4 linked regions of the Homo sapiens genome follow. The protein of the gene in region 1 interacts with the protein of each later gene in a biochemical or structural test. Each region holds a gene or a part of one and is shown in the gene's direction. Other genes may lie near its edges. The genes, in order: ABCB1, FBXO21, SP3 and PIM1.

Region 1 (7,952 bases):
AACACACATCAAATCTTACCTTATTTTCTTCTTACAAAAACCCTAGGAATATGCTGTTTTTGTCTTTATTTGAATGACACAGAAATCAAGGTTTTTGAGCAGTGGAGTATTTCTTCAAATGACACAGAAATCAAGTCTTTTGAGCAGTGGAGTATTTCTTCAAAGCCACACAGCTAGTAAGTCATGAAGCTGGAATTCCAAGAGTTGCCACTTCATTTTCTTCTTTCCCTTTATCTTACTCAGTTGTCTTCTCTCCTCTTAATTTTGTCATTCATTTAAAAACATTTCTTGTGCTATTATGGTAGATTTATTTTAATAGGGGGCAGTGACTTACTCAGAGAGATGATTCTCTAATGGAGTTTTAAAGATCTTAGAAGTTGATAGAGGAGGCTGGGCGTGGTGGCTCATGCCTATAATCCCAGCACTTTGGGAGGCTGAGGTGGGTGGATCACTTGAGGCCAGAAGTTCAAGATCAGCCTAGTCAATGTGGTGAAACCCCATTTCTACTAAAATTACAAAAATTAGCCTGGTGTGCTGGTGCACTCCCATAATCCCAGCTACTCAGGAGGCTGAGGCATGAGAATTGCTGGAACCCAGGAGGCGGAGGTTGCAGTGCGCCTGGATTATTAACACTACACTCCAGCCTGGGAGACAGAGTAATACTCCATCTCAATAAAAAGAAGTTGATAAGGGAGATAGTTCATGGCAACGGATCTTTGAAGGCACGCTAATGATAACTTAGGCATTTAGCCTACTAGTGTAATTTCCATAAATCTGCCTCTGATGTCATACTCTCAGCACCTAATATTTTCTACAAACATTTATTGAAACTTTATTTTGTATAAGTCTCTGTCCAGTTTGAATATTTAAAAAATTCATAATCATATGAAACATTAATAATAAATACAAAATGAGAGATGCCGATACTGAAAAGTAGGATTGCGGAGTGGTAGAAAATATTTCTGGCTGTAGTAGATGGGGAAGTGTTCAAAGAGGAGTATAATTCAGGTTTCCATTTGCCATCGACTTATCACATGGCTAACTCACTAAGCGACTTAATTAAAATTAAATTAATTTATCATCATCTGATCACCATTTCACACAACTCATGTCTGTTGCTGTATTGGCTAAATGATGGCAAGACAAACGACCTCTGAAAATGATCCTATTGACCTTCGGAATCTGGATTTTTTTTTCAATGCAGGTGTCCATAGAAGCAATCTGATGTAATCCAACATGAGTTCAAGCACAGTCATTTAATATCCCCTATCAAGTACAGTCATTTAATATCCCCTATCATCACATGTCCTTCATACATAAAAATCATTACATGTGAAAGGGTGGAGAGTGTGTGGATCCCTTATTATTGTGTTATTGTAACACAATAACAATATTGTGTTATTATTGTTAACACAAGTGAGTCATATGTCTTGCTCTTTGGACTGAGTGGAAACTTGTATTCTTTCTCTGCCTCAGGTCAATTAACTTCATTGAGGTGAGTTGCATTCCTTCTTTAAGCATGTTGAACCTTCAATCTGGACTCAGATGGGCTAAATAGAGGAGCTAGGAAAAATACAGAAAATAAATTATTAGAGAGATCAGAGAAAGATACATAAGATTTACAATAAAAGAATTATGAGAAAAACATCCAAAAGAATTAAAAACCATAGGAGAAGGAAAAATAGGTGAACAGCTTTTTAATTTCTATAAATGTGTTGTTAATACTCATAATAAAGGACTCAGAGCTGGGATATGAGAATAATAGGTCAAACGTATATGGATACATAGATGTGACTACATACATGAGTTGCAAAGAATGCTAAGGAGGGCAAAAAGAGATTGAGAAGAGGGCATTATTACTAATATATAGCAATGTTGAATGTTTAGGGTGTTTCAGGCACTGTACAAATCTTTTAAATACACAAATCACTTAATCTTGCCATAACATTAGAAGATACTATCTACTCTTTACCAAAAAGGTAACTGTGGGATAGCAGAGTTAAGTAACCCGTTCAAACCTATGCATAATAATCAGCAGAGATGGTCCTTATCTAAGTTTTTCTGCCTTTGAAGTCCAAATAGTTTAATGCAGCCAGGTACTAAAGAAGAAAACTTTTGTAAATTAGTTTAGTTTAATGATTTACATGTGGAAAAGCACAGAGTGAAAAGCACATATCATCTGAGAAGCCCAGTGAGTTTGGCTGAAATGGAGTGAACATGTACATGTTGAGGGTGAGGAAGATGATTAGAGAGAAGTGATGTGTTGTGGTTCTTAAAAGCTAAGAGGAAACTGTTAGATATGATATAGTCTGTGGCAGGGAGCCATTGCAGGTTTTCCAAGATGGACTCATAAGGAGAAAACACTTCGTGGGACTGGAAAAGGCAGTGAAGTGGTGTGTCCTATGATAATGTACTACAGTGTAGGATAGTGGTTAAGAGTACAGTTATGAGAGAGGGACTACTGGTTAGCACCTTACCTGCTGTGTGACTGGGCAAATAATGCAAACCTCAGTGTCTTTTATTGTAATATGGGAGTAACAAAAATAGTAACTACTTCATAGGATTCTTGTAAAGATTAAATGACTTAATTTCTTTGAAGTGCTTGGCAGTTCCTGATAAATGACCAGTAGTTAATAAATGTTAGTTGTTATTATTATCATTATATATTATTACTCCCATAGATACATATAGAACAGACTGCAGCAGAGAGGCAAATCTTTAATGTTGTCAGAGTATAGACAAGTTGGTGAAATGGCTACATGAGAGCGGAGGACAAGAAGGTGCAGATTGTGGCAGTCACTTCAAATGGAAATATCACCGCTTGAATGAAGGTATATGAGTGTCAACTTGCAAGGGGACCAGGTAGGTTTCATCAGAAATTAAGGAAGCTTAAGGAGAACAGCCAAGTTCAGCTTGACAGAAGTGGTGGTGGCACAAATGCAAGACTGGTGTCTTTCAAGAAACCAAGGACTGTTGAAAGTAGCAAGAGCTAGTTTGTTTTAGGTCCATCATGTTTTATATTCACACTTTCATGTCAGTGGAGCAAAGAAATGGAATACAATATAATAGAATGGTAGAATCTTATTTTTAAAATCTGTGTTATTCTGATCTTTAACTTACTTATATCTTTGATAGAGATCTTTACCTGATGCTCAAGATTGTAGAAATAGTATAATCAACATAACAGTATAGCACTGTATTTATATCCTGCACTGTTTAGGGAGGGTTTAAGGCCATTCAAAAGGATACATAAAATACAACAAGATTACATAAATGAAAGGTGAGATAAAGCAACAAAGCAAAACAAAAGTGAAAACAGAGATCATAGGCACAAATAAGATTAAAAACGCATGTAATGAAGATGAAAGCTTTTACATTTACCCCAGATGGACCACAGGGTTGTTGTTAAGCCTTTAAACAGTGAACAATGCTGTACACTTGCATATGCAATTAGAACATGTGGAAAAAATAGTGGCCTGTTAGAAGCCTAATTAACAATTTGTGAAAAAAAAAAAAAAAAAAAAAAAAAGAGGCCGAGCTGTAGCTCACGCCTGTAATCCCTGCACTTTGGGAGGCCGAGGCGGGCGGATCACGAGGTCAGGAGATCAAGACCATCCTGGCTAACACAGTGAAACCCAGTCTCTACGAAAAATACAAAAAATTAGCCGGGCGTGGTGGCGGGAGCCTGTAGTCCCAGCTACCTGGGAGGCTGAGGCAGGAGAATGGTGTGAACCCGGGAGGCGGAGCTTGCAGTGAGCCGAGATCCTGCCACTGCACTCCAGCCTGGGCGACAAAGCAAGACTCCGTCTCAAAAAAGAAAAAAGAAAGAAAAACAAAAGAAAACTTCATTGTATTGTAAGGCCAAGAACAAAATATATCAAGATAAGGAAAATTTGTAGTCAAGAATAGAAAAAAATTATGGCTTTGAAGTATGAGTTATTTAAAGAAAGTGGAAACATCCTCAGACTATGCAGTAAAAAACAAAGTGATTTTCTTCTTCTAAACTTATGCAATAAACTGATAGGTAATATGTGAAAGTCATAGAATGTAGACTAGAGGATACAACAAACCTATTTCCTCTATGTTCATAAGAAGTAAGAAAAGCTCTGATGTGAGTTAGCATTGCTTTACAATTTTGAATTGTGCAGATTGCACGTACTTTTCCTCAGTTTGAAGTAAATAGTGGACAGGAAAAAATATTAAATGTTGGCAGTAAATATGGAAGGAAATTACAACTAATGTAATATGCTAAAACATGCTATGTTTATTTTACTAATTTGAATTAAAATGTAAGAATTTAAAATGCCCTGGAAAAACACGGGCATTGATCTGACGTCTGAAGTTTTAAAATATTACACACTTTGAAATAGCATTTGTACCTTGAAATACCTGTCTCTATATATTTTTTAAAACTTCCTTTTTCTTTCATTCCATTTATCATCAAATAAAGGATGAACAGATGTAACTCAGAAACTGTCAAGCATGCTGAAGAAAGACCACTGCAGAAAAATTTCTCCTAGCCTTTTCAAAGGTGTTAGGAAGCAGAAAGGTGATACAGAATTGGAGAGGTCGGAGTTTTTGTATTAACTGTATTAAATGCGAATCCCGAGAAAATTTCCCTTAACTACGTCCTGTAGTTATATGGATATGAAGACTTATGTGAACTTTGAAAGACGTGTCTACATAAGTTGAAATGTCCCCAATGATTCAGCTGATGCGCGTTTCTCTACTTGCCCTTTCTAGAGAGGTGCAACGGAAGCCAGAACATTCCTCCTGGAAATTCAACCTGTTTCGCAGTTTCTCGAGGAATCAGCATTCAGTCAATCCGGGCCGGGAGCAGTCATCTGTGGTGAGGCTGATTGGCTGGGCAGGAACAGCGCCGGGGCGTGGGCTGAGCACAGCCGCTTCGCTCTCTTTGCCACAGGAAGCCTGAGCTCATTCGAGTAGCGGCTCTTCCAAGCTCAAAGAAGCAGAGGCCGCTGTTCGTTTCCTTTAGGTCTTTCCACTAAAGTCGGAGTATCTTCTTCCAAAATTTCACGTCTTGGTGGCCGTTCCAAGGAGCGCGAGGTAGGGGCACGCAAAGCTGGGAGCTACTATGGGACAGTTCCCAAGTGTCAGGCTTTCAGATTTCCTGAACTTGGTCTTCACGGGAGAAGGGCTTCTTGAGGCGTGGATAGTGTGAAGTCCTCTGGCAAGTCCATGGGGACCAAGTGGGGTTAGATCTAGACTCAGGAGCTCCTGGAGCAGCGCCCAAACCGTAGTGGCACTGGACCATGTTGCCCGGAGCGCGCACAGCCCGCGCGGTGCGGGGACCTGCTCTCTGAGCCCGCGGGCGGTGGGTGGGAGGAAGCATCGTCCGCGGCGACTGGAACCGGGAGGGAGAATCGCACTGGCGGCGGGCAAAGTCCAGAACGCGCTGCCAGACCCCCAACTCTGCCTTCGTGGAGATGCTGGAGACCCCGCGCACAGGAAAGCCCCTGCAGTGCCCATCGCGGCCAGAGCAGCTGGGGCATCAACGGCGGGCGCTCCCTCTTACTGCTCTCTGGCTTCGACGGGGGACTAGAGGTTAGTCTCACCTCCAGCGCGCCTGAGGCTCATGCATTTGGCTAATGAGCTGCGGTTTCTCTTCAGGTCGGAATGGATCTTGAAGGGGACCGCAATGGAGGAGCAAAGAAGAAGAACTTTTTTAAACTGAACAATAAAAGGTAACTAGCTTGTTTCATTTTCATAGTTTACATAGTTGCGAGATTTGAGTAATTTATTTCTAGCCTCCAGCTCTGAAATAAATGACATGTTGTTGTTTTTAATTATTTTTAAGAAACGCAAGCTAGCCTTTGGAATCAATATCCCTGCTTAGAGCAGAAGTTTGTTGGCTGAGTGGAGCACAGCATATGCATTTTCCCTGTCTTTTTTGTTCTTTCTTTTAATGATACATAATATTTTACATATTTATGAAATGGGGTACATGGAAGCGTTTTTTACATGCCCGGAATGTGTAATGATCAAGTCCGGGTATTTGAAGGATACATCACCTTAGGTATATTTCATTTCTATGTGTTGATAACATTTTAAGTCTTCTAGCTACTTTGAAATATACAATATATTGCTAACTGTAGTCACCCTCGTCTGCTATCGAACATTGGAACTTATTTGTCCTATCCAACCGTTCTTAGTCATTCACCAACCTCTTTTCATTTCACCTTTTTACCCTTCCCGGCCTCTTTCCCTTAGTCTTGGTGTGCCTCTTTCTCAGCTTTCCTGCCCCAGACAGGCGGATGCTCATATGTGTTTCTGTCTTATGAACTTCTGCTTTTCAAGTGGTGTTGGTCGCCCACACGTGAGCCATATGCTGCTGGTGATCTGCTCTGTGGTCCAGGCTCTTGCTTCCGGTAAATGGCTATGTAAACATCGCGTTTGTGGCCTGGCTGATGAGACAGAAGGTCAAAAGTACATTTAGGTTGTTAACTGGCAATAAATATCTGTATATAATATTGGTAATGTAATCATATAGGGAAAATAATTATTTAAAGTAAATTTTGATCATGGTGCTCTGCCTTTATAGAATATTTAAAACTTCACTAAATAGATTCATTGTTAGTAGTAAATTGTAAAATAGACTAGTAAGTTTAATAATATTAGAAACTGTAATGTAAATTATAAGATAAATTAGTAAACACATTAATATTATAAGAAACCAAGCTTTTCAGTGTAAGAGAAAAAATACAAATGTGGAAATCAAATACATTTTTAAAAATAATGTTAAGTTTGAATTAGAAATTTCAATATGAATTCATAATCTTTTAATAGTTCATTTTCAGTCCACTGAAAGGGACAGTAACAATGAGCACTGTTAGTACCAGATCTGGGTTTCTAAATACCATTCCTCCCTAAAAGAAATGAACCCCTCAGTAGCTAATTTCAGCCAGGTCTGGGACAGGAAAAATAGAAAGTGAGCCTGGAGTATCTTGTGGTACCTGAAAATAAGGAAGTGGAGTTTAATGGAGTAGTCGAAAGCACACTGAAGCTGTCTGGAAGATGCTTCCAATGGCCAACTCTGGGACAATTTGAGCATCAAAGAACATCGTAACTGTAACTGATTTTGAGATACTGAATGCTACTGCTGAATGCTTAATATTCTGAGAGAAGGGAAACTGAAAGAAAGTGTGAGAGGTAGAGAAAATAAAGCAATGATCTTTAGAGAAAAATTCCAGCTATCATTTTGGAACTTCCATTGTTATAATAGATTCAGGCAAGGATTGTCAATGAACTCTAAACTATCAGAAAAATGTTGTATCTAAGAATTTTCTTCAGAATGTTTACTAATTGGAAGGAGAATATGCTTCTCCAATTAAAGATTTTGCAGTTAGCACCTTAACCGAGTGATCAGACCTGGTATCTCTCACGGTAGAATGGACTGTAGTAAATGACTCATCACTTGGATTTTGAGTAAACAACATCACCTAGCAAATATTAATATATCTGCAAAAACATTTAGTCTGTATACAATTAAACTTGTAGACTGGGGCTGTCCAATGGATATATCATGTGAGCCACATTTGTAATTTAAAATTTTCTAGTAGCAACAGTAAAAAATGAAAATAAAAAGATAAAGTAATTTTGTAAATATATTTTATAGAACTCAATATGTCCAAAAGATTGGATTTTCTACATGTAATCAAAATGATTAATAAGATAGTTTACATTCTCTTTTATGCTAAATCTCCTGTTTGATGTGTATTTTACATTTATTGCACCTCCCATTTGTATTCAGTTTGATACAGGTATACCCAAGATGTGGGACATTCTGTAAGACAGCTGTTCTTGTTCCTTTACAAAAGTCAATGTTAAAAAAATAAAAGGAGGACTTCTAGATTAATAGAGACTAAAGAGATATAACTACCAAACGTAGTGTGTGAACATTACAAAACAAAACAAAAACAATCTAAAAGTTC
Region 2 (7,027 bases), on another chromosome or scaffold:
GTTAATTTAAAATGCTCCTGCTCTTGCTAGGATATGACACTGGTTGAGACCAAGAGTTGATCTTCACACCCAGAGCCACAGCCTCACTCCACCTCTCCACAACCCTGTGACCCCGGGAAAGTCACTTCACTAAGCCTGAGTCCTGTTCGGGAAGTGGCAGTGATTAAAAGCTTTTTTTTTTTTTCCACCTAATCCTCCCAATTTGAAGATCAAGAAATTACTGACCTTCAAATGGGAAGGATTAAGTGAAACAAAAAACCTGATGGACTTGGCACAGTGACCAGCAGAGAATAGTGTTCAGTAAATGTTGAGGTCCAGCACGTCGCAGTCTGAAAGGCAAGATAATAACATGGTGCATAAAACTGGAGTTTTCACAATACTTTGACAGGCTCACAATGCATCAGCAAATAGGACAGTGATTACTCATGATTTGATAAGCTAAGAAAGGAATTCAGAGGTAAAAACGCCAGCTAGTCTGACCGATCTGGGCCTAGAGTCCAGGTTGCTGTAACGCACTAAGCAGGCTGTAATCCAGGACTCAGTAAATTGGAAGGAGAACCTTGTCAGAAATTCTATGCTAAGGGCTGTAAACGTAATGGGTGCGAAATAATTGTATGTCTGTGTCTTTTTAAACGTGGAGTTTTTTCCACAGAGGCACTGTGTGCAGTAGAGGCGGTAATAGTGGAGTCAGACAGGGCTGCTACTCTGTGCTACTAGTTTAACCTCTGCATAGATGTAGTTTCTCCTGCTGCCTGCTGAATACCAAATACCATGATGAGTTAAGACCACTGAAGTGACCAGCAGGATTTTAGAACTCTGATATACGTGGCTCCCTCCTTCTAGTGTAGCTTCATAAACTCAACGAATGCATCCCTTTGGTGCCCACTCTGTGACCTTTTCCATCTTTTCCAGCACTGAGGCAGTTGTGTCAGACATCCTCTTCGTCTCGATTAAAGCAATTTAGCATTTTTTTTTCCCCTCTGAATTCGTGAGTGGCAAGTGAAAATCATTCCTGTGTATTGAAAAAACGTGGATTCTCACATTTCCCATGCCGACCAAGCATGCTAGGTGCTGTTAGAGCCCACCTCATCCAGAGTGCCCTAGGTGGTGGGCCCTCACCTGCGTCCCCAGCGCTTATCCCAGCACACTGGTTTCCAAAGAACTCCTCAGGTTGACACTGGTTGAATTGGGGTATCCTGGGCCAGCTGCCAGTGTTACAGTAGAGCCCAACCCTGGGCATCTGCAGTGCCGATTTGGTGGCGGTCCATCAGAGGATGGTCCAGAGACCTGGACCGGTTCGATCAGGGCATAGCCACCCCTTTTGGTCCTTTGCTTTGTTAGGTTACGTAGGTAGGTCTAAATCCCTCGCCGCAAAAAAGAAAAGGCCTAGCTGAAAATATTATCTTTTAGTCTTTCTGTCTTGTTTTGAAGGTGCTTGACATCCTCCAGCACATCCAAACCCTAGACCCGGGGCAGCACGGGGCGGTGGGCTACCTGGTGCAGCACACTCTAGAGCACATTGAGCGCAAAAAGGAGGAGGTGGGCGTAGAGGTGAAGCTGCGCTCCGATGAGAAGCACAGAGATGTCTGCTACTCCATCGGGCTCATTATGAAGCATAAGAGGTGAGTGCCCGGGATCATCTGTCCTGCAGTGTCCGTTCCAGAGGGGCTGCAGAGACACACATGCACCTGGTGAGCCCCCAGGACACAGTGGAGGAGGAGCTGACTGGATCACTTATCCCCCGAGTGCGCACCGCGGGGAAGACAGAAAGCTGAACCTCTTTTTTTTTCTTTTTGAACCGTGTCTTTGACCTTTGTGTTTTTTAAGCAGCAGCTTACTTTCCTGAGAGATCTTCTAGTGTTTTTAGTGGCCTTTAGATGTTTGACCCTTCTCTGTGTGTGAGAACATGGAAGTAACTTTGTAAGACACGAGTTTTTTCTCTCATTTCCTCATTGTTCTTATATCTTGTCACTTAATCTCAGTCTCTTCAAATCCGATAGGCACTTGGTCTATTTACCAGGCAAAATTAAACTGTATCCAAAGTGATTGGAGCAGTTTACATCCCACCAGCAGGCTGGGAGCCTGGAGTTCCTATTCTCGCCTGGTGCTATTGCCAGACCTTTAAAAGTGTACTTACCTGAGAAAGGGCAAATAGTGTTTCACTGTGGTTTTAATTTCTGTTTCCTGGGTTACTAAACACGTTAAGGTTCTTTTCATATATTTACTGGCTATCCAAGTTCCAAATTTCCTTTTATTAAGCGCCTATTCAAACATTTCATTTTTCTTTTCTTTTTTTCTTTTTTTTTTTTTCTTTGGAGACAGTCTGGGTCTGTTGCCCAGGCTGGAGTGCAGTGTTGTATCTCAGCTCACCTGCAACCTCTGCCTCCCAGTTCAAGCGACTCTCATGCCTCAGCCTCCCAGGTAGCTGGGACTACAGGCGCACACCACCACGCCTGGCTAATTTTTTGTGTTTTAGTAAAGACAGGGTTTCACCATGTTGGCCAGGCACGTCACTAACTCCTGACCTCAAGTGATCTGCCGTCTCAGGCTCCCAAAGTACTAGGATTACAGGCGTGAGCCACCACACCCAGCCCATTTCGTGTATTTTTTTCTATTGAGTTATTAGTCCTCCCTAATATGATATGTAGTTGTTCTTCTGTGTATCAGTATCTACATGACGATAAGTTGCAAATATCTTTTCCCAGTTTTTGGCTGGTGGTTTTCATTCTTTATTGCATTTTTTTAAACTTTTAAATGGAAATTTGCAAAGATTTATAAGAGAGAAAGGACTATAAGGAACCAGGTGGTGTTCCTGTCATCCAGCCTCAACAGCTGCCATACGGGGTGAATCTTACTGTCCCCTGCACCCTCCAGACCTTCCTCCCTGGGTTAATTGACGCAAGTGCCAGATGCCATTTCACCTGTAGCGATTTCAGTATGTACCTCTAAAAGGCAGGGGTGCTCTCTCCTTCTCTGTCTTTTCATATTTAACATCTTATTATCACATCTAGAAAACCCCAGTTCCTTAACTTCATGCAGTATCTAATGAGAGTTCCTATTTCCCCAGTTGTCTCATATTTTTACATGTTTGGATCAGGATTTGTTAGTCTCTTGGTTTTAGTGATGTCAGATTGGTTAGTCTTTTCCTTTACGGCTGTATTTTTAGTGCCTTGTTTTAACAAACCTTCCCTATCTTGAGTCATGAAGATACTTTCTATTTTAGAAGTTCTGCATTTAACACCTGAGTCTTTGCTGTACTGAGAATTGAATTTGGTGTGCTGTTGTCAGGCCAGGTCCCCATACCTTTTTCTTTTGGGTAACCAGTTGTCATCTAATCACTTTTTGTTGAAAAGTTTATTCTTTTCCAGATAAAGTGCTATGTTGATAATAAGAGGTGTTTATAAAAGGGGTTAGGGGTGTCCTGAAAAATGATTCACCGTGGAGTAAAGCAGGTAACTGAGGATGTGAGCTGAGAAGCCACGCGGTTGTCTGGAGGTTGTTGCGGCCGGGTCTGCAGGGACTGACTGCTCCTCCTGTGTTAACTAGGTATGGCTATAACTGTGTGATCTACGGCTGGGACCCCACCTGCATGATGGGACACGAGTGGATCCGGAACATGAACGTCCACAGCCTGCCGCACGGCCACCACCAGCCTTTCTATAACGTGCTGGTGGAGGACGGCTCCTGTCGATACGCAGCCCAAGGTAAGCGGCGGGTTCCGCTTGTGCCAGTGGCCCCGCGGGCGTGTTTTCAGCGCACGTTTGAGCCCTCGGGTAGGTACTGTGGGCGTGGGCCATCGGTTCCTTCAGAGGCGGCCGACGCCCCATGGCCGGCCTCCTTCGGGCCCACAGTCAGCTAAACGTGGCTGGGTCTGCACAGGTGCCGCCCTGGCGAGGGGTCAGTAGTCATACCCGCCCTCCCCCAGGGCCTCCGCTCCCACAGCCCGGACATCTGATTGGCCACTGTCTATGCCAATCAAATTCCTGTAAGTCCTGCCTCCTGGACCCTGCCCTCGGCTCCTCCCAGACTAGAAGGGAACCGGATGAACACCTGGGGGCCCCCTAGTGCTCCCTGGCCTCCCAAGGCTGTGGCTGCCGGCTGACGCCGGAGATGCCCTCGTGTGGCCACCTGTGGGAACTGCAGCCCACTGCGCCGGCCCTGGGAGCACCTGAGAGCCCGCAAGTGTACAGTAAGGTTGGGTAGGCGTCTGGGCCACTGCCGCCCCGGCAGGTGCCAGCCCAGGGCAAGGCTGAGGTGGAGACTGACAGAGCCTGTGGAAGCTGGTAAGAGACAAGAATGCCTTCAGTGTGAGTCTCCCTTCTCTTTGTTCCTGTTGAATTTCACCTCTACTTAATAGGATGAATTCAGTGTATGTCTGTCAAAGCATTCACATTGATTAATTAATAATTCACATTTATTAATAAAAATGAATGTGAATGCTAATGTAGTGCCATTCTGTGACGGACATCATTCTAATGTATATTAACTCCATTTGAGAAACATCATCATCATCATTTTCTAGGTGAGGAAACTGAGGCACAGGGAAGCCATTGAGATTTTAACTTAGAGAACACGATTTGAAGCCAGGCAGCTTGACAGAGCCTCCTCTTCATCCATCATGCTGTACCTGCTCATGTCTGAGTTTTGACCTAACTCAATATTATGTTCTGATAAATCCAATAATCAAAATATGGGATGTATAAAAACCTCAGAACTTTCTGAAAGGCTGGAGATTGCCAGGTGAGGTGTCTCACACCTATAATCCCAGCACTTCGAGAGGGTGAGGCAGGAGGATTGCTTGAGCTCAGGAGTTGGAGACCAGCCTGGGCAACACAGCAAGACCTCATCTCTGCAATTTAAAAATTAACCAGGCAGAGTCATGTGCACCTGTGTTCCCAGCTACAACACAGCAAGACCCCATCTCTACAAAAAAATTTAAAAATTAGCCAGGCAGAGTAGTGTACACCTGTGGTCCCAGCTATTCAGGAAGCTGGGTTGGGAGGATCACTTGAGCCTGGGAAGTGAAGGCTACAGTGTGCTCTGATTGTGTTGCTGCACTCCAGTCTGGGTGACAGAGTGAGACCTCATCTTAAAATAAAAGGCTGGAAAATAATGATTATTGTCAGTTAATCAGAAACTGAAAGGATCCCCTGGAACAGCAGCATCAAGATAAATGTTTGTTGAAACTGCAGGTCGCTTGCCCTGTCTCAGTGTGATGGGGATGGTGTAAGGGGTTTCTGTGCTCCCTGTGGCAGATGGAGGCACCAACGGTAATGTTATTTAACTTTTGAAGCTGTGTCGAATATAAACAATCTCTAAAAATCAACACATGATTTGGACATTATTGACTGATTCACTGGGCCACTGGTGCCAGCACAAGTCACCTGGTAAACGCTTGATAGCCTACAACAAATGGCGTTCACAAGAATAAATGAGCATTTTCTTTTCAACAACACCGTGGGCCAGTGTCTATGGCTTTACCACATGGCATCATTATTCACTGTTTAGGGTTGGTCTTAAGTATTTGGTTTTAGGGGTTGTGATATGTTCACTTCAGAAGTTGATCTCTAATCATATCTAGGTAAACATGCAATGTAAGGTTTAGTCATAAAATTGTCATTACTGAAAAAATTAATATCTGCTTGTTGGTTTTACCATCTGTTAAATTGAGATGGAACTAAATGATGGGTAATGTTAGCAAATTGGCTTCTTGAATTTAAAACGTAGAACTTCAAAGCTGTTCCTACACTATGAGAGTTCCCGTCTTCTGCCGGCGGCTCCATCAGCGCTGTGTCAGCAAGCGCTTCCTGAGGGACTCGGAGTCCTGGGCCAAGGGGCAGATCTCCCCCAGCATGCCTGATACGTGGCTGTCTTCAGGGTCCTCCCTCTCCAGGGGACTCTCCTCTAGGCCTTCATCTCCTTCCCCCTTGGGGTGTCTGTGGATGTGCTGGTGACTCCCAAAGCCGTGTTCTCTGGGCTCTTCTCTGGGCTCCGTGCCCACCTCTGTAACAGCCCCCGGGCATGTGTGCTTGGAGGGCTCTCAGGGGTCTTCTCTCCAACATTGTTACCCCGACTCACTGAACCCATTGTTTTAACTCGATTATCTCTGTAAAGAAAGAAAAAACATGAACTCATTGTGCCCCCATACCCCCCTTGCTCCTGCCTGCCCCATCTCACTAGTGACACCACGTGGGGGCCGTGTCTTGCTCTTCTCCCCTTGCCCTCGCGATACATCTGTCTACACACCCACTGCTGTCTCCTCATGTGTCTCCCATTTCCATTCTGGTGGTCTCTGCTTGCCTACTTCCTAACTGGCACCTGCCTCCCGGCCTGTCCCCAACCGGGCATTTTCCTTAGCAACAGCAAGAGGATCTTCCTAGCGTGTCCCTGGACCGGGCCACTTGCTGCTTGAATTGACTGACCATCAGGAGTTTCTCATCGGCAGGCAGTGCAGAATGCTTTACCAGGCCCTAGGGATCTGGCCTTCCCCTTACAGCCCCAGCACGGTTCCCACGCCTGACATACTCCAGCCCACTTCCGTTCATCTTCTTTGAAGTCATCATTCTTGCTCGCACGTGGAACAGTTAAAAGAATACATCAAATACCCCCATTTACCCTCTAGTCAATTCAACAGTAAATGATTCCCATATTTGCTTTATCTATAGAGATTTTACTGTTTTCCTGCACCATTTGAAAGAATATTGCAGACATGACCTAATTATGTCTGAGTATAAGGAGATTCCTCTGCATAACCAAATTACATTATCACACCTAGTAACAATTATTTTATAATATCTAATAGTTTTCAAATTTCTCAATTGTCACAAAATAACTTTATGCCTATTTTTGGCTTGTTTCTTAAAATCAGTATCCAACCAGAATTCATTCACTGCATTTGGTTGTTTTTTTTCTCTTTAGTCTCTCTTATTAAAGACAGTTCCTCATTCTTCATTTTTTTTCCCCCCTTTTTCATATGACTTTGACTTTTTGAAGAATCCAGACTGGTTGTCTTGTAAATTTTTTTTTT
Region 3 (6,126 bases), on another chromosome or scaffold:
GATATTTTTGTGAAATCACCTCATAATTTTATTTAGTGTTGAAGAAACAACATTGGCCCCTTGCCTTGTTCAGACAGATTTGCGTATAATGTAAATATATATATTAGTGGCAGAAACAAAGTACTGTAGAAACCTAGAAGAGGGAGAATTCTGCATGAAGTCTGGGAAACTCAGCAGAAATGGCGTTTGCAAAGGTACAGTGTGGTATGTTGGGTGATGGGGGACTTTGTGAGGGACAGAGTGGAAAAATTTTTAAGAGGGGCTGCCAAATTGCAAAAGAGAAGAATTTTTTTTGTCAGTGATTCCTAGTCTTTTTGGAATCCTACACCTTCTCCCCAGAAAAATTCATTCTAGTCCAGGGTTTATTGTTTGTTTTTTCCCTATATTTGACAGGGTCTGTCTCTGTCACACAGTGCAGTGGTGCAATCATGGCTTACTGCAGACTCCACTTACTGGTCTCAAGCAATCCTCCCCACTTCGGCCTCTTAAGTAGCTTGGACCACAGGTGCACACCACCATGCTCAGTTAATTTTAATTTGTTTTGTAGAGATGGGGTCTCACTATATTGCCTAGGCTGGTCTTGAATTCCTGGGCTCAAGTGATCCTTCCACCTCTGCCTCCCAAAGTGTTGGGATTATAGGCGTGAGCCACCACGCTTGGCCAAATCTGGAGTCTAAAGGGTATACAAGGTTTTTTTTTTTCCCATGTTGGCTTTTATTTGATGTTATAAAGTCTTCATGATATGAATATATTTTTTAAAAAGGTGTCATGTATATTGTCATGTAACATGATTCATGCCACTTCATTGTATTAAATACGTTTAAGATACAGTTTTTGATGTTAAGAATGATATCCTGAGAAGGCCTATCTCCTTCAGTCCTTTTCCCCATTTTTCACCTTTTAACTCTTGCTTCTGAATCTATGCTAAGCTACTTACTAGATGTGTGATATTGGTAGTTTTCTTACCTTAAAACCTCATTTTCATCATCCATGAAGAGGCTAACAATAGTACTCCCTGTTGATAGGATTGTTGTATTAAAATATAAGCATTCAGCATAGTGCCTGACTTAACGGTAGAGATTCAAATGGTAACCTCCTTCCAATGCCTTCCTCCCCCCTTAACTCTGGAGATTCCATTTTTCTGTAGTGAAGTGTTTTAGAATTTTCATTGTTTGACTATGGTTCATACATTGATTTTTCCAAAATGAGAAGAAGTCTTATTTCTAATGCAAAAATGTGAAAAGAACAGTTGGAACCTAAAGTGATAGTGGATGAAGTGTCTGAAGTGACTGCCCTATCAGAAAAGGATGGAATAAGAAGAAAAGACTGAAGCACCTAAATGTGTATTTTCTTGAGGAAATTACACCCCTGTGTAAGAGTCTATCCTATTTGAACATTTCTAAAAACCAGCCGAAGAATCTTCAGGTTCATTGCGACTGAAAGATAAAGTCTAGCACTGAAGTGGTTTTTAAGATTAGGAAAGGCCATCAGAGAAATGCAGTTATTTCTCCCCTCCATCCTTCCCCCACAAAAAAAAGTCTAAGCCTCCGATTAATCGACAACAACGAAATACAGGAAGTATTGGCTTAGTGACCTTTTAGGATATCTGTCCGACTTACATCCCTTCTCTGAGCATTACTTTCTGCCACCTTCCGTGAGGAGCTGTTCAGAAATCAGACAAGGAGTGGACATCTGGTCAAAGTTGAGCCAATTAGATGATTTCTCCTGAGAATTTGGAATTGGAAAACTGATGTCTTGGGAGGTCACATCTGGAACATACATGGGAGGCAGAGAAAGCAAAGATGACATTCAACCCCAGAAGAAAAAGAAAATGGCTTTCTTGATTCCTGATAACTTGGCAGTGTTTGTTCCAGTGTCTTGCATTTCACTATCTGCATTTCATCCTCCTGGGGTTCCACAAGATAGCCTTAAAACCTTACAGAGAGACTCCCCAACTTAGTTTTTTCTTAAGTCAGAAGGCTGTTACTTGCTACCAAATAATGCCAACTAAGACAACTGAGGTACAGTATATTCTCTCGTAAAACACCATAGAGTTGATGACTTGATCCTATAGAAAAGGGTCCCCAACCCCTGGGCCACAGACCGGTACTGGTCCCTGGTCTGTGAGGAACCACCTGGGCCACAGACTGGTCCTGGTCCCTGGTCTGTGAGGAACCAGGCCATACAGCAGGAGGTAAGCGAGCATTCCTGCCTGAGCTCTGCCTCCTGTCAGATGAGCCACAACATTAGATTCTCATAGGAGTGCGAACCCCGTTGTGAACCCCGCATGCGAGGGATCTAGGTAGTGCCCTCCTTAAGAGAATCTAATGTCTGATGATCTGAGGTAGAGCAGTTTCATCCTACAACCATCCCCACCCCCCGACCCCCATCCATGAAAAAATTGTCTTCCTCAAAACTAGTCCCTGGTGCCAAAAAGTTTGGGGACCGCCGTCCTAGGAAATACCAACAAAAAGTCACGTTTATTGCCTGCCAAGTGAGTCAGGTTTAGACAAGGCAGAACTTAGTATATAGCTTGGATGAATCAGAAAGGGTGGGCCTTGAAAGACTGGTAGAATGTGTCCAAGAAAACTGATTAAAAGCCTTAGAAGTCCCTCTACAGTTTCAGGACGCCCTCTTAACAGATGGCTGTATCTTTATCTGTGGTTGGTCTTGTGGAATACTGACTTTCTGCCAGCATTAGCCTGTGTTTCTATGTCACACCAAGTCACGTATATTTTCATTGTGTGTTAGGACTCAGAATAGGTTTGGGTCTTTCTTTTAATTATGTATACCCAATTACTTAGTCCTCCTCACACCCTGATCCTTTAAAAATTCTTAAGTTGTGTTAATTGCATTTTTCTCAATTCTACTCCTAGTAACTCTGTGTGTTTTTTTCCATCTTTATTCATTTAGTAAAGTTGAAACCTTTCATAGCATAATATAGTGATTAAGTGCATAGGTTTGGGACTTAGACACACATGGGCTTGCTTGTCTCCCAGTTCTGCCGCTTACCACCTATGTGACCTTTCACTCTTTACCTTTCCACTCTTAGCCTGTTCTCTAACTATAAAATGAGAATGATGCTAGCGTCATCTTCATAGAGTGATTATGGAGATAAATAAGTTAATGCATGTAAACCACTTTCCATAATGCCTGGCACATATTATATTATGTATTAGTAAATGTAAGCACTGGAAGAATCAGTAGTCTTCCTACACTTGAAAATAGTTGTCTTCAACTATTGTTGTATTAATGAGTTAATTCACCTTGTTAAGTCACCTTGATCCACCTAATTGTCAGCCAACATTTATTAACGAAACTGCTAGTATTCGTATTGTGCCTTTTTTATTATGAAACATTTCAAGAATACAGAAAAATGCAGAAAACAATGTAACAAATACCTAAGTATCTATCACCCAACTTTTATAGTCTTATTTTTACCTATATATTTTTTCTTTTAGAAAGGAATGATCACAGTTGTGCCTGAAATCTGTATAGCCCTGTCTCATTTCATTTGTCTCCCTTTACCCACATAAGTAATTGCAGCTCTGAATTTGATGTTTATCAGAATGATACCATGAGTGGTTTTATATCCTTATTATATGTATGCATACCTAGGATTGTTTTTCTGATTTTGAAACTTCATATAAATGGTATCATTCTGTACAAAACCTTCTGGGACTTGTTTTACCACTCATGTTTTTGAGATGTATCCACACTACCATCTTTCTCTAAATCATTCATTTAAATGCTGTAGTTCATTGAATAAGTTTATCACAATGTATCCATTTTCTTCTTGATGAGCATCTCAGTTATTTCCAATTTTTGACTTATAAACAATGCTGCAATGAAATAATTGACATATTTCCTTGTGTACATGTGAGCATTTCTTGAGATATGTATCTAGAACTTGAATCACTGGCCAACAGGATATTCTTAATCTTCAGTTTCACCAGATACTTCCAAATTGATCTCCATAACATGCATACCAAATTATATTCCTACCAGCCATTTATAGGAGTTCACATTTTTTCCATACCCTCCCAATCCTGCCTTGGCAGATATGTTTTTTCCAATGAATAACAATGAAATTTTGTTTTGGGATTTGACAAAATGATTCTAGATTCATCTGGAAGAAAAGCAAGTATAAGTAAGAAATTTAAAAGGGACCTGAAAAACTAAGCAATGGATATATTTAAAAATTGGTACCAGTAGGGATAACCAAATATTTGTTAACTGTAGCAGAAACAATGCATGTTTTTCTCACTGGTTCCACCTTCTATCTCTCAGTCAAGCCCTGCCCAGGTGTGGTAGTCCTCATAGTCTCTCACTGTAGGGGTCTTCTCACATAGTAGACCACTCTCTTGAGTTGAATATTGAAAAGAAGGCTTGGCCGGGGGCAGTGGCTCATGCCTGTGGTCCCAGCACTTTGGGAAGCTGAGTCGAGCGGATTGCTTGAGGTCAGCAGTTCGAGAGCAGCCTGACTAACATGGTGATGAAAAGTACAAAATTAGCTGGGGGTGGTGGCGCATGCCTGCAATCCCAGCTACTCGGGAGGCTGAGGCACGAGAATCGCTTGAACGCAGGAGGCATAGGTTGCAGTGAGCCGAGATTGCACCACTGCACTCCAGCCTGGGCGACAGAGCAAGATTTCGTCTCAAAAAAAAAAAAAAAAAAAAAAAAGGCTTAAGTCCAACTAACTGTTTCCCTGCTGTTCATTTTATCCAACGGCTGGGGATATAGGCTACTGCACATGATGGGTTGATGGATGTGAAATGATAACTCATGACTTTAATTCTAATTTTTCTATATTCTGGTGAGGTTGAGCATATTTTTACAAGTTCATAATCCATTTTCCTCTGATGGGAGTTGCCTGTTTGAATCCTTTGCCCACTTGCTTTTTGGGGTTATTTGCAATTTTTTGCATTGATCTTCAAACATTCTTAATTAATCCCAGGTACATATTATTTTATATATAAGATATATTTTAGAGATATATAGGCTGATAGTATCTTTTCTCAGTCTAAGGCTTATCTTTTAATTTTGTTTATGGTGTTTTGTGTGTGTTGTTTTGCAGAAGTTTTATTGTATCTGAATTGTGGCTTTTGTGTCTTAAGAAATTCTTTACCTACTGTCATAAAAATTTTTGTCTAAAAATTTTATGATTTTGCCTTTCTATTTATCTTGTTAATTCACTTTGAAATTACTTTTGTTTATGGCATAAAGTCCATTATTTTCCATATGGATAATCAGTTGTCTTAGCAGTTTATTGAATGGTCCAACGTTTCCCTGCTGATTATAATGCCCTCTCTGTTATTTATCCTAAATTCTTGACATCCGGTAAGGAAGTCTCCTCTGCCCACCCTTCTCTGTATTTCAAAATGGTTTTGACTGTTCTTGACCCCTTGCTCTTTCTGTGAACTTTAGGATTAAATGATTATGTAGAATTAAACAATCGGGTTAAGGTTTTTTATTAGAATTACATTGAATCTATAGATTAATTTGGGGAAAGAATGTTATCTTTCTATCCATGATAATTCTGTATCTCTCCATTAATTCAAGTCTTTAATGGTTTTTAAAAATAAATTATTGTCTCTTTGAAAATCCTTACACATCCTTTATTGCACTGATTCGTATGTAGTTTATGTTTTTGTTGTTGCTTTGGAGAATAGGCTTCTTAAAATTAAATGTTTAAATTGATCAATGCTGGAGTATATAAATGCTATTGATATTTGTAAAATGATTTTGTCTAATAATCTTACATAATTCTTTTGCTGTTCTAATAGTTTGCCTGTAGATCCTATACGATTTTCTGTGGAGACAGTCATATTGTCCTCAAAGAAGAAAATGTTTGTCTCTTCATTTCCAAGTCTTGTGCCTCTACTTTTAATCAACAGCTTAATGTTAAACAGAAGTGGTGGTGCCAGACATCTCTGTCCTGCTTCTGACTACTATTTACTTTTCTTTCTCACATGTAACTATAACATTATTCAGTTCTTATAACATGGTAAGATAGGTGGAATAGGCATTATCTCCATTTCTAGTTAAAGCTGAGTGGGCCAGAGTATCACTCCAAAACACACAGCTAGTAGATGTCAGAATATGTACTCCAGACTTTCTGACTTC
Region 4 (6,947 bases), on another chromosome or scaffold:
CTTTCAAACTTTCTTCTAAACTTGTTTTTTAAAAAAATTTCGTGACTACAGAACTTGCTGAAGTCATTGTTTTTTTGTTTTTTTTTTTTGCATAAGCATATAGTCCCTGGATGAAGTCATTCCTTTGACAATGACTTGATTAAACCCATATCAGGCAGAATATGAAAACCACCTAAGGATTAATTTGGATATTGTTCAAATTAATATTAATAAATGCTCCTCTTCCCAGAGAACTGTTAGCATAATTGTGGCCTTTTATCCTTCCAAAAGCACTTGTCATTTAATTATTAGGGTGATTTTTCTGATTCTTTGTTAGATTCTTTGAGATAGCACAAATAGTGCTAATTTTATTAAGACTATATTTCGATAAATCAAAACATCAAGTTCCCTACTCTCGAGGAGTAACTTTTGACCCACAACACATCTGAATGTTTACTAATTATCTTTTAAAGCAGTTTTAAGTAAATCAAAGCTGTTTGCCAAGCAAGGTCCATGTTTTGTAACTTCCAGCTGTGAAGCCCCCACTATACAAAGTAGATATATTAAATGTTAATCACTTTAGCTCTAATTAAATATTTAGTCCTTCAAAGACCTAGAAAAAGTGAAAAAGGTTGAAGTTGATACATATTTTTTTTTCTAAAAGGCCTAAAAGATCTACTAGAAACAACTATTTTAAATCACATCTCTCCCCAAATGGTTAAAAATCGAACTATTAATCCAGTAGTTTACCTTTGGTACCTTCTAGGTGTAAGACCGTTTGGGCTGGGCGCGGTGGCTCACGCCTGTAATCCCAGCACTCTGGGAGGCCAAGGCAGGTGGATCACAAGGTCAGGAGATCGGGACCACCATGGCTAACACGGTGAAACCCCGTCTCTACTAAAAATATAAAAAATTAGCCAGGCGTGGTGGCAGGCGCCTGTAGTCCCAGCTACTCGGGAGGCTGAGGCAGGAGAATGGCGTGAACCTGGGAGGCAGAGCTTGCAGTGAGCCAAGATTGCGCCACTGTACTCCAGCCTGGGAGACAGAGCGAGACTCCGTCTCAAAAAAAAAAAAAAAAAAAAAAAGGCCGTTTTAAAAAACATCATCATCATAACCACGATCAACATTATTGCCATCATCATTGCTAATATTTATTAGAAGTTTACTCTGTACTGGGTTATATGCTTTACAAACAAGAGTTTTATTTGCTCCTTACAACAACCCTATGAGGTAGATGCTGTTATTATCTCCATTCTGTCTAAAGCTTAATAAGGTTAAGTAACTTGACCAATGCCTAACTAGTAGCTGCCAGATCCCGGAATTGAAACCAGGCTAACTTAGTTTAAAGCCCTTGCTCCCAACTTTTATGTTCCCGAAGCCCACTTAATTCATTTAAATTTGGTATAAATTGACTTTAATTATGGCCTTTTTGTTAGAATCCATTATAGTCTTCTCTTTTATCAACAAATGTTGGATAAAGTATGCATTCAGGGAGGCTGGGCATGGTGGCTCACACCTGTAATCCAAGGAGGCTGGGCATGGTGGTTCACACCTGTAATCCCAGCACTTTGGGAGGCCGAGGCAGGCGGATCATAAGGTCAGGAGTTCGAGACCAGCCTGGCCAACATGGTGAAACTCCGTCTCTACTAAAAATACAAAAATTAGCTGGGCATGGTGGCGGGCGCTTGTAATCCCAGCTACTTGGGAGGCTGAGGCAGGAGAACCAATTGTTTGAACCCGGGAGATGGAGGTTGCAGTGAGCCGAGATAGTGCCATTGCACTCTAGCCTGGGTAACAGGGCGAGATTCCGTCTCAAAAAAAAAAAAAAAAAGGGCATTCAAGGAATAGGAAGACAAAGTATAATGGAAAAGTAAATGAACAAAAAGGATTTAAAAAAACAAATCCCAACTGTCAGATTAGTGGACAGTGAACCAATGCTCTGAGTTTGTTCATCAATCTGTGGTAGAACTACAATTGTTTCCTAAAGAGTGGAAAGGCTTTGAATAAAAGTGGAGAGGTAGAGAGGGCTCTCCCAGGACAGGTTGATTGCTTCCGCAAAGGCAAAGGGTCTGTAAAGTGCTAGGCGAGTGGGAACAAGTGGGAATAGTTCTGTTTGACTACATTTGAGGGTTTGAGAAAGGAAAGGGAGGGTAGAAGGGATGGAAGTGGGAATCACATATGTTTAATGATGTCTTGTTCGGTGCCAAGGACAGTTTTAGACCCTGATAAGCGGAAAGCTTTGAATACTCAGGAGGTGAATTTGGGTCATTTCATCTCCTCTCTTAGCTGCTGTATGACCCTGTGCCATCCTATTTATGTTTCATTTTCCTATCTGCAAAAAGGGAGTAATTCTTGTTCCCTTGGGTTTTCTCCTAGTCATAAAAAATGAATGAGTTCGGCCACAGTACACAAACAAAAGGAAAATATGTAATATTTTGTAGGATAAATTCATAAAAGTTGTGGAGGATCTGGGCACTTTTATAAAGCAAGCACTGTAGAAAACTTTCAAAGGAAACATTTAAATTCACTAATGACAGCTATAGGGATCCTGATTTTTCCTTTAAATGGCAGGCACTTCAAAAAATTAAAATAGAATGTAGTTAGCTTTCAATTACTTAGGCCACTGACAATTCAATTTATGGATTATATAGTATTTTAATTTACTCATTTCACACGTCGTTATCAACTCTACATGAAGTTTAAAAGGACAAAGGATGCAAGTGGAATTGGTCAGTGTTCCGGGTTATTTCCAAGGGAGGCAGAGGGTGGGGGGTTTCCTTTGAGACAAGACTTGGGGTTGGCCAATAATTGCTGGTATTGCCTGCCTGGTAATAACAGGCTGATGAAAAGGTGACTACAACGTGAAAACTGGTTAAATCAAGCGCACCCTCCCACCCTCGTTTTAGATGAGGAATTTTCCGCCCTCACAGAAGGGGCTGAGGCAGCATCTGGCATCACAACACTAACATTTGCTTCGTGATTTCCTCTTTACCCGGCCCTTTGACACACATCCCTTCCCAGAAATCAGGATTCGCTGGTGCTTTTGCATTTCTAAAATGGGAATCCCGTGGCTGAGCTTTTAGCCGGCCGGAACGACTGAGGGCTGCATCCCTTTCCCGCAGGAGCGGGGCTCCCGCCTCCAGTTCTGTTCCAGGCCTGACTCCTCCACTCCCTCCGTGACTCATGTCCTGCGGATCCTTCGCCCCCGACGCGCCCCCCAACACACAAACCCCCAGAATCCGCCCCCAGCCTACAGCGCGACGTCAGCCCGCCCCAGCCGACTTGGAGGTCTCGGGTCTGAGTCACACAGAAAGACCACCCTCGTCGGCATCCCCACACACAGTCCGACACCCGGCGCGCCGGCCTCCCCGCCTGACACACTAACGCCCGTCGTCTCCGCGCAACTTGTTATGCTCCGGCTCGAGCCCTTGACCCAAAACCCTCAGCGAAACGGAGAGCCGCAGAGCCGGCCTCGGGCGGCCTTTGATGGCTTTGTTATTGTTTGGGTTTGAATCGATACGCCCCTCCCCATCCTTCCTCCCTCGCGGCCCTACACCCAGCTCCCGCCTCCCCTCACGCCCCGCGCCCCTCCCCCTCCATTTTGGCGCCTTTTCCTTCCCGCCACGTCGTGGCGGCGTAGAGACCATTCTGACCGCGAGAGCTGGGCGGGGCGGGGGCGGGGCGCGCCGAGTTATGCAGATCAATCGGCCTCTGGTTGGCTGGAGTAGCGCTGGCAGGGGCGGGGCCGGGGCGCGGCCACAGAGCGCGCGGGGCGGGGGCCGAGGGGAGTCGCCCAGTCCCGCCGCTTCCCCACCCCCTCTCCTCCCTCGGCCGGCCCGGCAGCCCTGCTCCCCGCCTTGGCCTCCCGGAGAGGCCCCGCCCCGTCCCCGCCCGCCGCGCCCTCCCCGCGCGCCCTCCCCGCCGGCGCGCTCCTCCCCTTTACTCCTGGCTGCGGGGCGAGCCGGGCGTCTGCTGCAGCGGCCGCGGTGGCTGAGGAGGCCCGAGAGGAGTCGGTGGCAGCGGCGGCGGCGGGACCGGCAGCAGCAGCAGCAGCAGCAGCAGCAGCAACCACTAGCCTCCTGCCCCGCGGCGCTGCCGCACGAGCCCCACGAGCCGCTCACCCCGCCGTTCTCAGCGCTGCCCGACCCCGCTGGCGCGCCCTCCCGCCGCCAGTCCCGGCAGCGCCCTCAGTTGTCCTCCGACTCGCCCTCGGCCTTCCGCGCCAGCCGCAGCCACAGCCGCAACGCCACCCGCAGCCACAGCCACAGCCACAGCCCCAGGCATAGCCTTCGGCACAGCCCCGGCTCCGGCTCCTGCGGCAGCTCCTCTGGGCACCGTCCCTGCGCCGACATCCTGGAGGTTGGGATGCTCTTGTCCAAAATCAACTCGCTTGCCCACCTGCGCGCCGCGCCCTGCAACGACCTGCACGCCACCAAGCTGGCGCCCGGTGAGAGCACCCCCCGCCTCCGGCCCGGGGATGCGGGGCGGCGGCGGGATCTCCTGGGTGGGGAGCTGGCGGCTCGCGGGCCGGCACTGAGTCCCCGTGCTTCCCCCTTTCCTAGGCAAGGAGAAGGAGCCCCTGGAGTCGCAGTACCAGGTGGGCCCGCTACTGGGCAGCGGCGGCTTCGGCTCGGTCTACTCAGGCATCCGCGTCTCCGACAACTTGCCGGTGAGTGGGCGCCCCGCGGTGGGGAGGGCGCGCCGGGCGGGGGGCGCACGGGCGTGCTTTAGCCCGGACGAGGGAACCTGACGGAGACCCTGGGCTTCCAGGTGGCCATCAAACACGTGGAGAAGGACCGGATTTCCGACTGGGGAGAGCTGGTGAGTGCCCTGCAGGAGCGACCCCCAGGATGAGTGGGTGGGGTGAGGGGCGCCCCCGACTCCCGCCCTAACGCGGCCCCCTCGCCCCTGCAGCCTAATGGCACTCGAGTGCCCATGGAAGTGGTCCTGCTGAAGAAGGTGAGCTCGGGTTTCTCCGGCGTCATTAGGCTCCTGGACTGGTTCGAGAGGCCCGACAGTTTCGTCCTGATCCTGGAGAGGCCCGAGCCGGTGCAAGATCTCTTCGACTTCATCACGGAAAGGGGAGCCCTGCAAGAGGAGCTGGCCCGCAGCTTCTTCTGGCAGGTGCTGGAGGCCGTGCGGCACTGCCACAACTGCGGGGTGCTCCACCGCGACATCAAGGACGAAAACATCCTTATCGACCTCAATCGCGGCGAGCTCAAGCTCATCGACTTCGGGTCGGGGGCGCTGCTCAAGGACACCGTCTACACGGACTTCGATGGTGAGCCAGGCCCGGGAGGGAGCTGCCCAGGTGACTCGGCCCGGCCCGGCCCAGTCCGGAGGCCTCGGCCAGTCTCCCGCGCCAGCCTTTTGTAAAGGTCATTGGGCCGCCTGGCTCGATGCTAGCCGGGGTGGGACGCAGGAGAGCCTCCCAGCGTAGTAAAGCCGGGGATTTTCAGCCAGCTGAACCTGTAATGTTTCTGGCATGATTTTATTCTTCAAGTGGAATTCAGTTAGTTCCAGGCTTTCCCGATGAATAAGAGGTTGTGGGCAACCGGCGGTAGCCCAGATTTTTCTAAAGTCTGACCCAGTTTCCCCGCCAGTAAAAGGATGGGGGCGGGGGAAGAGGTGGAAATTGATGCCGGTTTTGTAATTTTTGTTTTATTTTATAAGGGAGTTAGTTTTCTGTATGGTAGTTTTAGAGCTGCAGTTCTTAACTCCTTTCTGATCTAGGGAAGGTTAAGGAATAGGAACTATATTATTACTGGTGGCTTTTTTTTTTCTTTAGTGTTAAGGGGAGAGAGAGTCAGGAATGAATGTTGTGAAATAAGATCTGTCGCTGGTTTGAAAATTAGTTGGGTGTCTCCGCAGAGAGGATGAAAACCTATCCTAGGGAGGGGCTTGGAGCGGGTTCTTTCAGAAAAGAAGGAATGGAGAGCCTGAGATCAAAGCTGCGGAGGGTGGGTCATCATCTGAGCGGCTTAACCTAACAAACGACAGCCTTTCAAAACTTGTGACTCGGGCTTGTGGTTTATGTTTATTTGCCCTTGGAGGACGCTGGGTTGGGCTGCATTTTTTGTATTTAACAGTTAATGGCTGGCCGGGTCCTCCCATGTTTTTTCTTTCAAGTCTTTGCTGCCCCCTGGTGAGCACCAGCGGCATGGCCCCTCCTTTTTCTTTTACTACCCAAAGTTTGTAAACAGGAATCACGTGGTCTGAAACCAACCCTGCAGCTCTGTCTACCTTTCCAGTCTAGGGAGGAAAGGGTGTGGGTGTCTGCTCCTGCTTGCATCGGGTGGGGAGGAAGGCCTCCCAAAGGGCACCCTGACTTAGGATGTTGTGCAAGCATCCTTGCTTGGATCCTGTCGGCCATGAGAATCTCACCCGGGCTCCTGGGCAGTGGTGAATGCAATTTAAGGATAGTCTATGAGATACCTTTCTTGGTTGTGCAGACATGCATCCCTTCATCCTTCGCAGGCGGTCCTGCCTCACAGGGCCTCAAGTTTTGGGTCTGCGGCCAGCTGTGTTTGTTTCTTGGAGCAGTTCATAAAGAATTTCAGTTTATGGTTTGGGCTAGCAGAGAGGTGGGTAATGCTTTGGGTTGGAGAGATGCCGTAAGGTGCGCCTCCACTCTCCTTAGCCCAGAGGGAAAAATGGAGTTCACCTAGCTCCTGAGAGAAGGGATTTTTTTTTTTTTTAAAAGAAAGAGTTATATATACCACCCAGCTTCTTTGTGCTTGTTTTTGCTAAAAGTGTGTTTTCTCTTCTATTCCCTTGGCTCACAGGGACCCGAGTGTATAGCCCTCCAGAGTGGATCCGCTACCATCGCTACCATGGCAGGTCGGCGGCAGTCTGGTCCCTGGGGATCCTGCTGTATGATATGGTGTGTGGAGATATTCCTTTCGAGCATGACGAAGAGATCATCAGGGGCCAGGTTTTCTTCAGGCAGAGGGTCTCTTCAGGTAACT

Evidence for each region.
Region 2: of the proteins of ABCB1 (region 1) and FBXO21, one has a biochemical effect on the other in vitro, tested with the Homo sapiens proteins (one study listed by BioGRID).
Region 3: the proteins of ABCB1 (region 1) and SP3 form a complex in vitro, tested with the Homo sapiens proteins (one study listed by BioGRID).
Region 4: the proteins of ABCB1 (region 1) and PIM1 form a complex in vitro, tested with the Homo sapiens proteins (one study listed by BioGRID).

Annotation. Positions count from the first base shown.
Region 1 is NC_000007.14:87,597,870-87,605,821, reverse strand, and holds the start of ABCB1 (ATP-dependent translocase ABCB1), read left to right. Parts: upstream 1-4,937; 5' UTR 4,938-4,996; coding exon of another isoform or gene 4,997-5,067; intron 5,068-5,631; coding exon of another isoform or gene 5,632-5,637; coding exon 5,638-5,705; intron 5,706-7,952. UniProt on the Homo sapiens protein: Translocates drugs and phospholipids across the membrane. Catalyzes the flop of phospholipids from the cytoplasmic to the exoplasmic leaflet of the apical membrane.
Region 2 is NC_000012.12:117,152,468-117,159,494, reverse strand, and holds part of FBXO21 (F-box only protein 21), read left to right. Parts: intron 1-1,410; coding exon of another isoform or gene 1,411-1,431; coding exon 1,432-1,622; intron 1,623-3,546; coding exon 3,547-3,704; intron 3,705-7,027. UniProt on the Homo sapiens protein: Substrate-recognition component of the SCF (SKP1-CUL1-F-box protein)-type E3 ubiquitin ligase complex.
Region 3 is NC_000002.12:173,900,253-173,906,378, reverse strand, and holds the end of SP3 (transcription factor Sp3), read left to right. Parts: 3' UTR 1-5,604; downstream 5,605-6,126. UniProt on the Homo sapiens protein: Transcriptional factor that can act as an activator or repressor depending on isoform and/or post-translational modifications. Binds to GT and GC boxes promoter elements. Competes with SP1 for the GC-box promoters.
Region 4 is NC_000006.12:37,166,232-37,173,178, forward strand, and holds the start of PIM1 (serine/threonine-protein kinase pim-1), read left to right. Parts: upstream 1-3,920; 5' UTR 3,921-4,071; coding exon of another isoform or gene 4,072-4,344; coding exon 4,345-4,426; intron 4,427-4,541; coding exon 4,542-4,648; intron 4,649-4,749; coding exon 4,750-4,800; intron 4,801-4,893; coding exon 4,894-5,260; intron 5,261-6,764; coding exon 6,765-6,941; intron 6,942-6,947. UniProt on the Homo sapiens protein: Proto-oncogene with serine/threonine kinase activity involved in cell survival and cell proliferation and thus providing a selective advantage in tumorigenesis.